Regions from separate parts of the Homo sapiens genome. Here regions 1, 2 and 4 are each linked to region 3. The links come from fine-mapping of genetic effects on gene expression. A gene starts in region 3. Each other region holds a variant in brackets. All regions are shown on one strand. Distances are from middle to middle.

Region 1 (2,685 bases), 29 kb before region 3:
GAGGCTGCAGTGAGCTATGACTATACCACTGCAGTCCAGCCTGGGTGACAGAGCAAAAGACCCTATCTCAAAAGAAAAGAAAAATCCCTAATATCCCGTCACAGAAGGGAAATGTATTTTTCATTGTTTTTAAAGCTCTTTAGCCTCATTTCTTCAGAGAGGAAAAAACTCTGTGCAGAGACAATATCTCCCTATGTTGCCCAGGCTGGTCTCGAACTCCTAGGCTCAAGTGATCCTCCGGCCTGAGCCTCCCAAGTAGCCAAGACTACCAGCATGTGCCAACACACCCAGCTAATTTTTGTATTTTTTTTGCAGAGATCGGGTTGTGCTGTGTTGCCTAGGCTGGTTTCAAACTCCTGGGCTCAAGAAATTCGCTCGCCTCAGGCCTCCCAAAGTGCTGAGATTACAGGCATAAGCCACTGTGCCTGGCTTCTGGAACTGATCTTTCAGGCGGCTGAATCCCTAAAAGATTTCTCTTTACCTCGTTGCAGCCCCAGGACTACTCATGCACAGTATTCCACAAGGTTCATGCTCCATCCAAACAGAAGCCCCCTCAGTGCAAAAACTAAATCATGCTATCTTCCCTACATTATTTATGTACTTGCCCAGTTATTACTTATTCACCAACACCGTAACAAAGATAAAGTAGACTTGAAGAATCACGTATCAATCGTAAATTCATTTTCTTGTGTTTCAGAGCCTTTTGTTGATGACATGCATAAATGTAAATATTTAAAATTGCTAATGAACAGCTATTTATAATGAAACTTCTTTGAGGGTGAGTCCGGAATGAAATTACATTATCCAAACATAATGAGTCATGACTGTATGTCTCACTACATCCTCACATATGTCATGTCACTCAACCCTAAAATCAAACAATGCAGGGTGGATCACAGGGAAGGAAGGCTGTTCTCTAACACATTTCTGCGACCTGATAGCAAACCAAAAAAGATTGTATGGTTTTCTTAGAACTCCTCCAAGTCAGAAGCCTGCCTGGTCTGAGGTATCTTCAAGGGACATTTTCACCATCCTATGGAACTGCAAAGCAGCTCCCTGGTCCTTTCTGAACTGCCTCGTGCTGTCTGAACTGTCCATGACTCTGGGTGAATCAAAGTGAAGATAGGCTCATGGACTATGAGTCACTCTCCCTAAAAGCCCTTCTAAAAGCATAGGATTAGGACCTCAAACTGGATTAGCACAGCCCCTGAGGGAGCAGAAGAGTTGAGCAATGCAAACTCCACAGTGAGTGCCACTCAGAAGATGAATGAAGGCCAGTCCCTGCGCCAACACATTGGGTCCC[T/TCC]CCACCTGTTTCCAGGCATCACCTCTTCTCACAAGTGACAGGAGCATCCCTCTAAACTAGAAAGCCTGCAATGTACAGCAACTTCAAATCAGAGAAACAAACTTCCTCATGATCTTTTTGCCCCTCTATGAATCTAAATCCATTCAGCACGGTGGCCCATGCTTGTATTCCTACTGCTTTGAGAGGCCAAGGTGGGAGGATTGCTTGAGGCCAGGAATTCTAGACCAGCCTGGACAACAGAACGAGACCCCATCTCTACAAAAATTTAAATTAAAAAGTTAACCAGGTATGGTGGTGCACGTTTGTAGTCCCAGCTACTCGGGAGGCTGAGGTGAAAGGATTGCTTGAGCCCAAGAGCTCAAGGCTACCACAAGCCATGATGGCACCACTGCACTCCTGCCTGGGCGATGGAAGAAGACCCTGTCTCTAAAAAAAAAAATGTTTGTTCATTAAAAGAAAATCTGGCCAGGTGTGGTGGCTCACATCTGTAATTCCAGCACTTTGGGAGGCTGAGGCGGGCGGATCACCTGAGGTCAGGAGTTTGAGACCAGCCTGACCAACATGGAGAAAACCCACCTCTACTAAAAATACAAAATTAGCGGGGCGTGGTGGCACTCTCTCTCTCTTTCTTTCTTTCTTGGTGTGATCTTGTCTCACTGCAACTCCGCCTTGAGAATTCAAGTGATTCTCCTGCCTCAGCTTCCCGAGTAGCTGAGACTACAGGCCCACACCACCACACCCAGCTAATTTCCATAGTTTTAGTAGAGACAGGGTTTCACCATGTTGGCCAGGCTGGTCTCGAGCTCCTGACCTCAGGTGATCTGCCCGCTTCAGCCTCCCAAAGTGCTAGGATTACAGCCATGAGCCACCACATCTGGCCAAAACCAGCTATTCTATTCTAAAATACAAGCTACTTTAGACACATTCTTAATTGATGCTGTATTAAGTTGAAGAAAGAAGACAGTTTTAGGACTTTGCTATGCAGTCTTCAAATTACCCTGCATTTGACTTTGGCCTCTGATTGAAAGCATGAAAGATTTGAGGGATCTACTGAGGAGTTCTAGGAATGAGATATACAAGGTCATGAAAAGAGAAGCTGTAAGAGGAGGGAATTCAGGAAAGGCCTACATTAAATGCTTGGGAGGAGAAGACGAAGAAAAGTTACCAGGAGACAGTAAGGAAGAATGAGTCACTGAGGTCAGGTCAGGTTGGCTTACCCGGGCAATTCTTCCAGCTGAAAAAATCCATCGCTGGTTATTCCTAAGCTGGCACCTATGTAGAAAAAGGCAACATAGATCACACAAGACTGCTCTTTCTCTTGCAAAGTAATCACAACATTTTATGCCAAAAACCAAACACTTTCACAGCCAACATAGTCTCCG
Region 2 (2,685 bases), 240 kb before region 3:
TTCTTTTCAACTAACTTGTGCCTTAAGCCCCAAGTTCTTGGTTGGAAGGAGGTTGCAAGCCATTTGATGGTGTGTGTTAGAGGTGTTTTAAAAAATAGGGTTAAGGAGCAAATTTACCCACTTTGCTTATTTCTGTACTTTTATGAAATTCATCAGTGACATCTCCCCCAACCCTATTGATTAATTTAGTATATGGTATTAGTAAATGATGTTGAGGACCAGTAAATAATGTATTGGTATAAATGGCTCATTTTTATCCTTAGTGAAATAAAGGATATAAAACCATTGACTTATAAAATTATTTGTATTTTTTAAATGTACTACAGCTTTTTCTTTCTAAAAATTTGTTGTCAAGTTGTACAGTTTGAAAATTAGTAGCTAGATCAAGATAGTGATTATCTTTGGGGGAGGGGGAAGAAAACAAGAAAATGCACGTTTTCTACTTGCTCTTGGTATTTCATTTCATTAACATTACCTAAACTTGGTTGGGCACACACAGGGTGGGAGGTTTCACTGGATCCTGTTGGGGGCTGGGGGGCTGATTGCTAAAATACTGGAGAGCAGAAACAGGATTGTGAAAATATACTTGGAGGCCTATTGCGGTCTATGTCTGATCTTTAAATAGAAATCTTCTCAAAATGGTTTTGGAAAGTTTAGGCAACTGTTTTTTTTCAATTGTAGAGTTTGTTTATGTCAGTACTGTTTTCTCTCCTCCTCCTACCTCTTTTTTTCTTCTGCACCAGCCACTAATAAAAGCTCAAAGTAAACTTTGCAGAACGATCCTTAAAACATATACAGAAAGTTAAGATAGGTCCTCAAATGACCTAACAAGCACTTAAGGTGAAGCTAAAAGAAGAGCTCGTTAAATGCATTCTCTTAGCCTGCCTACCTCACAAGTAGGACTTATTCTTCATGTGCTTTTCCATGTAGACACAGACACCCCCACCCCTCCCCCAATGGAGTTTCGCTCTTGTCGCCCAGGCTGGAGTGCAATGGCACAATCTCGGCTCACTGCAATCTCCGGCCTCCACGATTCAGGCAATTCTTCTGCCTCAGCCTCCTGAGTAGCTGGGATTACAGGCGTGCAGCACCACGTCTGGCTAATTTTTGTATTTTTATTAGAGATAGGGTTTCACCATGGTTGTCAGGCTGGTCTCGAACTCCTGACCTCAGGTGATCCACCTGCCCCGGCCTCCCAAAGTGCTGACATTACAGGTGTGAGCCACTGCGCCCAGCCGACACACTTGTTTTTTAAAATAATTCTCTGAGACTTTTTATATTACACAGTGTTAATTATTCAACTTATCTTTGAGTGCATAAAGCACTTTCACACATGCATGCATCCATTGTCTCATTTTGCCTGATAAGTGCATAATATGTATTAGATGC[A/G]AAAGTAGGTTGATCTCCTTTTCAGTAATTAGAAGATTAATGTGTAATTATGTATAATTAGTCCTTTCTTTAAAGAGCTGACACCACGCTTGTCAACACCAGTAACCCTTTGACTTAAAAAAAAAATACCCCTTTTATCTTTAAAGGATCTAGATCGTCATCTGCTAATTGGATATGAAATTAGTAAGTATTTCAAAACCCATCCCTTCCAAGTTTAATCCTGGGTTTTGTACTTGGCAGAAGCTGTATGGGCACATATGTGGCCCTTATGAATGAAAGTGATTCTCTCAATTTGCAATCACTAGGAAAAAAAAATACAAGCTACTTTTAAAGTTGTTATTGATAATGAATTTGCACATAAACCCCCCTACTTTTTCACTGGATTCACTATGTAACCAAAGGGGTGTGTATTTTCTAGACTGGCCTGTTTCAGTAATATAGACTGGCTTCTTTAAGAATAAGGTTGTGATTTCTTTTGTCCATTTTATTGTTGTTTTCTTTTTTTCTTACTCTTTTTTTCCTTTTTGGTGCCAAATTCACTGATTTAAGCCTATGATCTGAGCTTTACAGAGATGAATCACATAATCGGGAAATCATTTACATGTTCACATTGACAGGGCATGGTTTCTATGCCACATTTCTGAAATTTTTGATGTGACACCCATAAGGCTTTAGTCAAATACAAGGACGTGCTTTGTTGAGGCAAACCCACTGTTGATTTCCCAAGTCAGTGAAGTTGGCCATTAAAATTCTGAAGTTTCTTTGGTGTCACTTGACAGTGACCGACATCAGACTGGAATGTCTTGGGCCAACATTAAGCCAATATGGACCATTAAAAATTTGTTTATAGGTTTTCCCCAAATCACCCCAAGGTCTCTATCAGAGTTGAAAATTTAACTGAATTGAGAGCTATTGCCTAGGATCTGCTTCCTTTAAGCTTTCATTTTGAGTGCCTTCATTTAGCAGGTAGCAGGAGAAAAAGACATTGATGCAAAGGGGAAAGAATGTATGCCAATGGGTTTATTCATTATCCTTACAGTGAGACAGGAGAGGAAAAGGCAGTAAGGACTCTGCAATGAAAGGGACTACTGGCAGCACCAGCCACGTTTGGTGTTTGTGCATTAAGGATTCTAAGGGATGTTTTTATGCCTACCAGAGCAGTTGACCTGCTGCTTTACCTTCTGTTCACCTTCAGAGTTCTCGGTGTAAAAATGTGAGCATCAGGATTCCTGAGTAAGAGAGTACCATCTGCACTCTGGCCTATGTTTCTTTCCATGTAATATTATCTATTTCAAA
Region 3 (2,685 bases):
TTTTCATAACTGTCCATTTTTAGTTTCATTCATTGCACAAGTGCTTATTGAGCAAGGGATTTTAAGGTGATAAGAGACACACAAACACAGAAGCCCATCCCTGTCCTTAAAGAGCTCCCAATTTGACATAATTTAAATATTCATCTCCAAAGGAATTTAGAGAACCTATCCCAAATCCCAGGTTCCTCTTGGATACAGCATTTTAATCGTCAACACCCAAATCTTGTGATAGAAAAGGGCGGGCACACCAATAACTTGGAAACAACATTTATTTTTAGAATGAGTGCAGTGGCTCAGGCTTGTAATCCCAGCACTTTGGGAGGCTGAGGCGGGAAGATCGGTTGAGTCCAAGAGGTTGAAATCAGCAAGGGCAACATAGCGAGACCCCCATCTCTACAAAAAATAATAATAATTAACTAGGCGTGGTGATTAGCCCCCTGTAGTTCCAGCTACTCAGGAGGCCAAGGTGAGAGGATCCCTTGAGCCCGGGAGTTCGAGGCTGCAGTGAGCTATGATGGCCACTGCACTCTAGCCTAGGTGACAGGGCAAGACCCTGTCTCAAAAAACAAACACAAACAAAAACCCTTATTTTCAAAAATTATGAATTTTGTAAATCTCAGGATTTACATCCCTCTGTTTTTAGTTTTGCAATCCACATAAAACCAAGACAAAACAAAAGCTCTGAGAACTCACCTACTCAAGGTCGCCTTGGCTGCAATTCAGATCACCCGAAAATCCCAAAGCCCAGGCTGCACTTCAGACCAATTAAGTCGGGAAACATCCCAAAGCCCAAGTGCACCTCAGACCAATTAAGTCGGGAATCCAGGCACCCTCAGGTGATTCGAATGTGTAGCCAAGGTTGACAACAACCGCTATAAATCATTCTGCCCTTGAAACGGGAGAACCAGGATCTACATTTTTCAAGAACCAGGATCTATGGCACCGTCACCCTCGTCCCTACACACAGGCCACCAGCAATGTTCCCAGATGCAGTTTTGTGTTTCACGCGGTCAAGAACAGAATCCAATCCTCTCCCACTTGGACAAGTGAGGATGGAGGAAGGTTAATCTAACCCGCCCCGGCCCTGGTCAATATCGCATCCGTGCGGAAGCAGACGCTGGCTCGGCTTTGCGGGCCGCAGAGAAGCCCCCGGACGCCTCTCTCTCCTCCACCTGCTGGGTTCCTGGCTTCGGAATGGGGAGTTGCGGGGGTGGAAAAGAGGAAAGCCCAGCGCCGGGGGACAGGATCGCCATAGGAACGAGCACAGGCTGTCCCCCGAAAGACCGAGACAAAGAGGCGCCCCCCGCCCGAACAAACCGGCGGTACTCACGCAAGTGCCACCCAGCTTGTGGCTCTCCACCACGGCGGCCCTGGCACCCAGCTCGGCCGCCCTGCGCGCGCTGGCCAGCCCGCCCGAGCCGCCCCCGATCACCAGGTAGTCATAGGAGGCCACGGCGCCAGCAGCGGGCGGCGGGCCCTGCGGCTGCGGCTCCTGCCTGCAGGCCATGGCACGGGAGAGGGCGCGCGTGAGGGCCGCGGGCTCGGGCAGAAGCAGCAGGAAGCCTCGGAAGGCGCGCGCCGCCCGCCGCCAGCTCGGTCCCGCGCCGGCGCTCAGGGCTCGGGGCAGCAGGGCCATGCACGCGGAAGTGGCGCGCCAAGTGGGGCGGGCGGCCCGGGGGCGGTCCCCGGGGTAGGGGGGCGCGGGCCCCGGGCAAGCGCAGCCTCACGGTGACTAAGCATGCGCCCGCCGCTAGGCAAGACCCAGGAGGATGCCCAGAGGCGGGGCCGCCTCCCAGTTCCCCGCCCCGGTGGCGGAGCCTGAGGGGTTTCTCCGCCTCCGTTCTCACCCCGGCCCCTGGATCCCGAGCGGCGCCTGCCGCGTGTAGCCTTCTGAAGTCCGGTGGATCGAGGCGAGGAACGGTGAACGTCCTCTCGTTTCAGCTGGCTTTTCCCGAGCTGGCCCCCTGGGGAGTTGCCAGTGGCACGGCTTCTCCAGGAAGAGAAATTTGCCTCTATTCGAAGGGTTGTTTGTCCAGGTTTGTTCCAGAGACCACTTTTGTTTGTTCTTGCTTTTTCTTTGAGACTGGGTCTCACTCTCCCCCAGGCAGGGGTGCAGTGATGCGATCTCTGCTCACTGCAGCCTCCACCTACTGTGCTCAAGCAGCGATCCTCCCTCCTCAGCCTTCCCGGTAGCTGGGAACTACAGGTGCCCGCCACAGCGCCCAGCTAATTTATTTATTTATTTATTTAATTTTTTTTTTTATTTTTTTTATTATTTTTATTTTTTTTTTAGAAATAGGGTCTCACTATGTTACCAGGACTGGTAGGGAACTCTTGGCCTCAAGCGATTCTCTCACCTCGGCCTCCCAAAATGCTAGGATTATGGTATGAGGTCACCACTTCTCCTGTTGTCCTTCTCAGTTTCTCCCCAACCTCCCCTTTTCCCTAGTTTATAAGACAGGAGAAAAGGGAGAAAGCAAAAAGTTGGAAAGAAACAGAAGTAAGATAAATAGCTAGACGACCTTGGCACCACCACCTGGCCCTGGTGGCTAAGATAATAATAATATTATTAACCCCTGACCAAAACTATTGGTGTTATCTGTAAATTCCAGACATTGTATGAGAAAGCACTGTAAAACTTTTTGTTCTGTTAGCTGATGTATATAGCCCCCAGTCACGTTTCCC
Region 4 (2,685 bases), 50 kb before region 3:
TAGAGACAGGGTTTCACCATGTTAGCCAGGATGGTCTCGATCTCATGACTTCGTGATCTGCCCACCTCGACCTCCCAAAGTGCTGGGATTGCAGGTGTGAGCCACCGCGCCCAGCATTTTTTTTTTTTTTTTTGAGATGGAGTCTCACACTATTGCCTGGGCTGGAGTGCAGTGGTGCCATCTTGGCTCACTGTGACCTGTGCCTCCTAGGTTCAAGCGATTCTCCTATCTCAGCCTCCTGAGTAGCTGGGATTACAGATGCCAGCCACCACGCCTAGCTAATTTTTGTATTTTTAGTAGAGATGGGGTTTCATCATGTTGGCCAGGCTGGTCTCGAACCCCTGACCTCAGGTGATCCACCTGTCTTGGCCTCCCAAAGTGCTGGGATTATAGGTGTGAGCTGCTATATATTTCTTGGCACTTTCAGTAATAGAGGCTGTTAAGCCACAACACCTCAAGGGCTGGGCCAGTTCAAGGACCGATGAGAATGCAGACAGGAACTCAGATAAGGGTACTGTACTTTCTTGTTGGTTTACTATGGAACCAGCACACAGGCAGGATAAATATGAGATTAAGAACACATGATGTTAAAATAGATGTGGCTACTAGGGCCTCCCATTTCCCTGACAGAGGCACACCTCAAGGCTGGGGCCTGTGCAGTGAGAAATCCACCAGCAGAATGAAGCCTAGAACCTTGGTCCACTGTCTTTTAGGCTAGGGGAAGAGGGGAGAAGTGCCTACATTAGTCCATGCCCAAGTTTGGGGATCCTATTTTCTTGTCCCACCACAATACATATAACTTCCTTGCTAATACAATATTTTTCTTTCATTGACATTGGGCCTACTTAAGAAGTCAGTGCAGGCCGGATGTGGTGGCTCACGCCTGTAATCTCAGCACTTTGGGAGGCCGAGGTGGGCAGATTACTTCTAAGGTCAGGAGTTCAAGACCAGCCTGGCCAACACGGTGAAAACCCATCTCTACTAAAAGTACAAGAATTAGCCAGGTGTGGTGGTGTGCACCTGTAGTCTCAGCTACTCAGGAGGCTGAGGCAGGAGAATCGCTTGACCCCGGGAGGCAGAGGCTGCAGTGAGCCGAGATCGTGCCACTGTACTCCAGCCTAGGCAACAGAGCCAGGCTTGGTTTCAAAAAAAAAAAAAAAAGTCAGTTCAGTAACTGGCCATCACTAACCAGAAAGACAGTCAGTAAAAGCTTAACAGAACACACAGTAAAGAATTCAGTGGGTCCAGTGCAGTGGCTCACGCCTGTAATCCCAGCACTTTGGGAGGCCAAGGCGGGCAGATCACGAGGTCAACAGATCAAGACCATCCTGGCCAACATGGTGAAACCCCATCTCTACTAAAAATACAAAAATTAGCTGGGTGTGGTGGCGCGTGCCTGTGATCCCAGCTACTCAGGAGGCTGAGGCAGGAGAACTGCTTGACCCCGGGAGGCTGCAGTGACCTGAGATCACACCACTGCACCCCAGCCTGGCGACAAAGCTAGACCCTGTCT[C/CAAA]AAAAAAAAAAAAAAAAGTATTCAGTAACACTGGATGACTAATGAAAATCCTGGAAAAATTTAACTAGCTGGTAAAACCTAATAGAAATAAAGTGTTAAAGACCTAAGTGATTTCTAGGCTTTTCTTCCAACTCAATCATTAATCTGCTAAATGTTTCTTTTATACCTTCGATCTTTATTTTTATACGAGAACTCTCTTTTCACCCCCGTAAGCACAGGCAACTGATTCTCCAATGTGAAATATCCTTAGAAAATAAACCAATTTCCTGTGTACCAATTAAAGCTCACAGTAACAAATTTTATAAGAAGAAAAGGCTGTAATTTTATTTTCAAATTTTTGGAAGTTTTTCAGAAAAAAATAAAATGACAAGAACACATACAAATATTGAAATTATTCATTGAACTATAAACACTTAGCAGAGGAAGGGACTTTTGATGTATTTGAATCCACCTCCTTCTGAAAGCAGGAATCACTTCTAAATGTCTCTCATATCTTTCTTCAAGGAGTGGTTTTCCAGGAGGTTCCCAGCCTCCTCAAATCTTTCCCAAGTTTGATGCACTTCACCTCATAAAAATAATATATATATATATATATATTTTTTTTTTTTTTTTTTGAGACAGGGTCTTGCTCTGTTGTCCAAGATTGAGTGCAGCAGCATGATCAGGACTCACTGCAGCCTCACCTCACCCAAGCTCAAGTGATCCTCTCACCTCAGCCTCCCAAGTAGCTGAGATTACAGATGCACATCACCACACTCGGGTAATTTTTTTTACTCTCTGTAGAGATGCAGTCTTGCTATGCTGTGCATGCTGGCCTCAAACTTGTAGGCTCAAGTAATCCTCCTGCCTCGGCCTCCCAAAGTGCTAGAATTACAGGCCTGAGCCACCGTGCCTTGCCACAAACTATTTTTAATCATTAAAAAAGAAAAAAGAAAATAAGGCAGGCCGGCTTCTCACATTACATGCTTTTAGAAAAAGGTCTCATCCTTGAAGCAGCTTTGTTATATGCAGAGCACAGTACTGGCTTCAAAAAATATATAAAGGTTCTGTGCACTGGCACTGTTTACATGTGAAGAATTGCCATCAACTTCTGTGAAAATTAGCAAGCTGGCACAGTGGCTCACGCCTGTAATCTCAGCACCTCAGGAGGCCGAGGTGGGCGGATCACCTGA

Which allele goes with the higher level. Positions count from the first base shown, and alleles are read on the strand shown. Sizes are in standard deviations (SD) of each study's normalised expression. Not every link is listed here.
As copies of TCC replace T in region 1, the expression in hypothalamus of the gene that starts at base 1,647 in region 3 goes down (small effect, 0.29 SD a copy in GTEx).
For the expression in CD8 T cells of the gene that starts at base 1,647 in region 3, C is the low allele of the variant in region 4 and CAAA is the other (large effect, 0.75 SD a copy in CEDAR).

The links. PIP is the estimated chance that this variant, and not a neighbour inherited with it, causes the effect. A credible set is the group of variants that fine-mapping cannot tell apart.
Region 1: its variant is the best candidate, but not a certain one, in a credible set for the expression of GSR in hypothalamus (GTEx, PIP 0.55).
Region 2: its variant is the best candidate, but not a certain one, in a credible set for the expression of GSR in whole blood (TOPMed, PIP 0.87).
Region 4: its variant is the best candidate, but not a certain one, in a credible set for the expression of GSR in CD8 T cells (CEDAR, PIP 0.79).

What each region holds. Positions count from the first base shown.
Region 1 is chr8:30,697,561-30,700,245 of GRCh38, forward strand. It overlaps GSR (glutathione-disulfide reductase), which reads right to left. Exons shown (of 13, transcript NM_000637.5): 6 at 2,521-2,575. Among named protein-coding and RNA genes, the nearest start is that of GSR, 29 kb to the right of the region's middle. The variant T/TCC (reference allele first, on the strand shown) is at 1,304.
Region 2 is chr8:30,490,955-30,493,639 of GRCh38, forward strand. The region is part of intron 4 of RBPMS (RNA binding protein, mRNA processing factor); the gene reads left to right. Among named protein-coding and RNA genes, the nearest start is that of RBPMS-AS1, 110 kb to the left of the region's middle. The variant A/G (reference allele first, on the strand shown) is at 1,390.
Region 3 is chr8:30,726,200-30,728,884 of GRCh38, forward strand. It overlaps GSR (glutathione-disulfide reductase), which reads right to left and starts at 1,647. Exons shown (of 13, transcript NM_000637.5): 1 at 1,331-1,647. The coding sequence starts at 1,636. RefSeq lists an enhancer at 545-1,232 and silencers at 1,308-1,747, 1,818-1,907.
Region 4 is chr8:30,676,251-30,678,935 of GRCh38, forward strand. GSR (glutathione-disulfide reductase) reads right to left here. Exons shown (of 13, transcript NM_000637.5): 13 at 1,816-2,685. Among named protein-coding and RNA genes, the nearest start is that of GTF2E2, 19 kb to the left of the region's middle. The variant C/CAAA (reference allele first, on the strand shown) is at 1,514.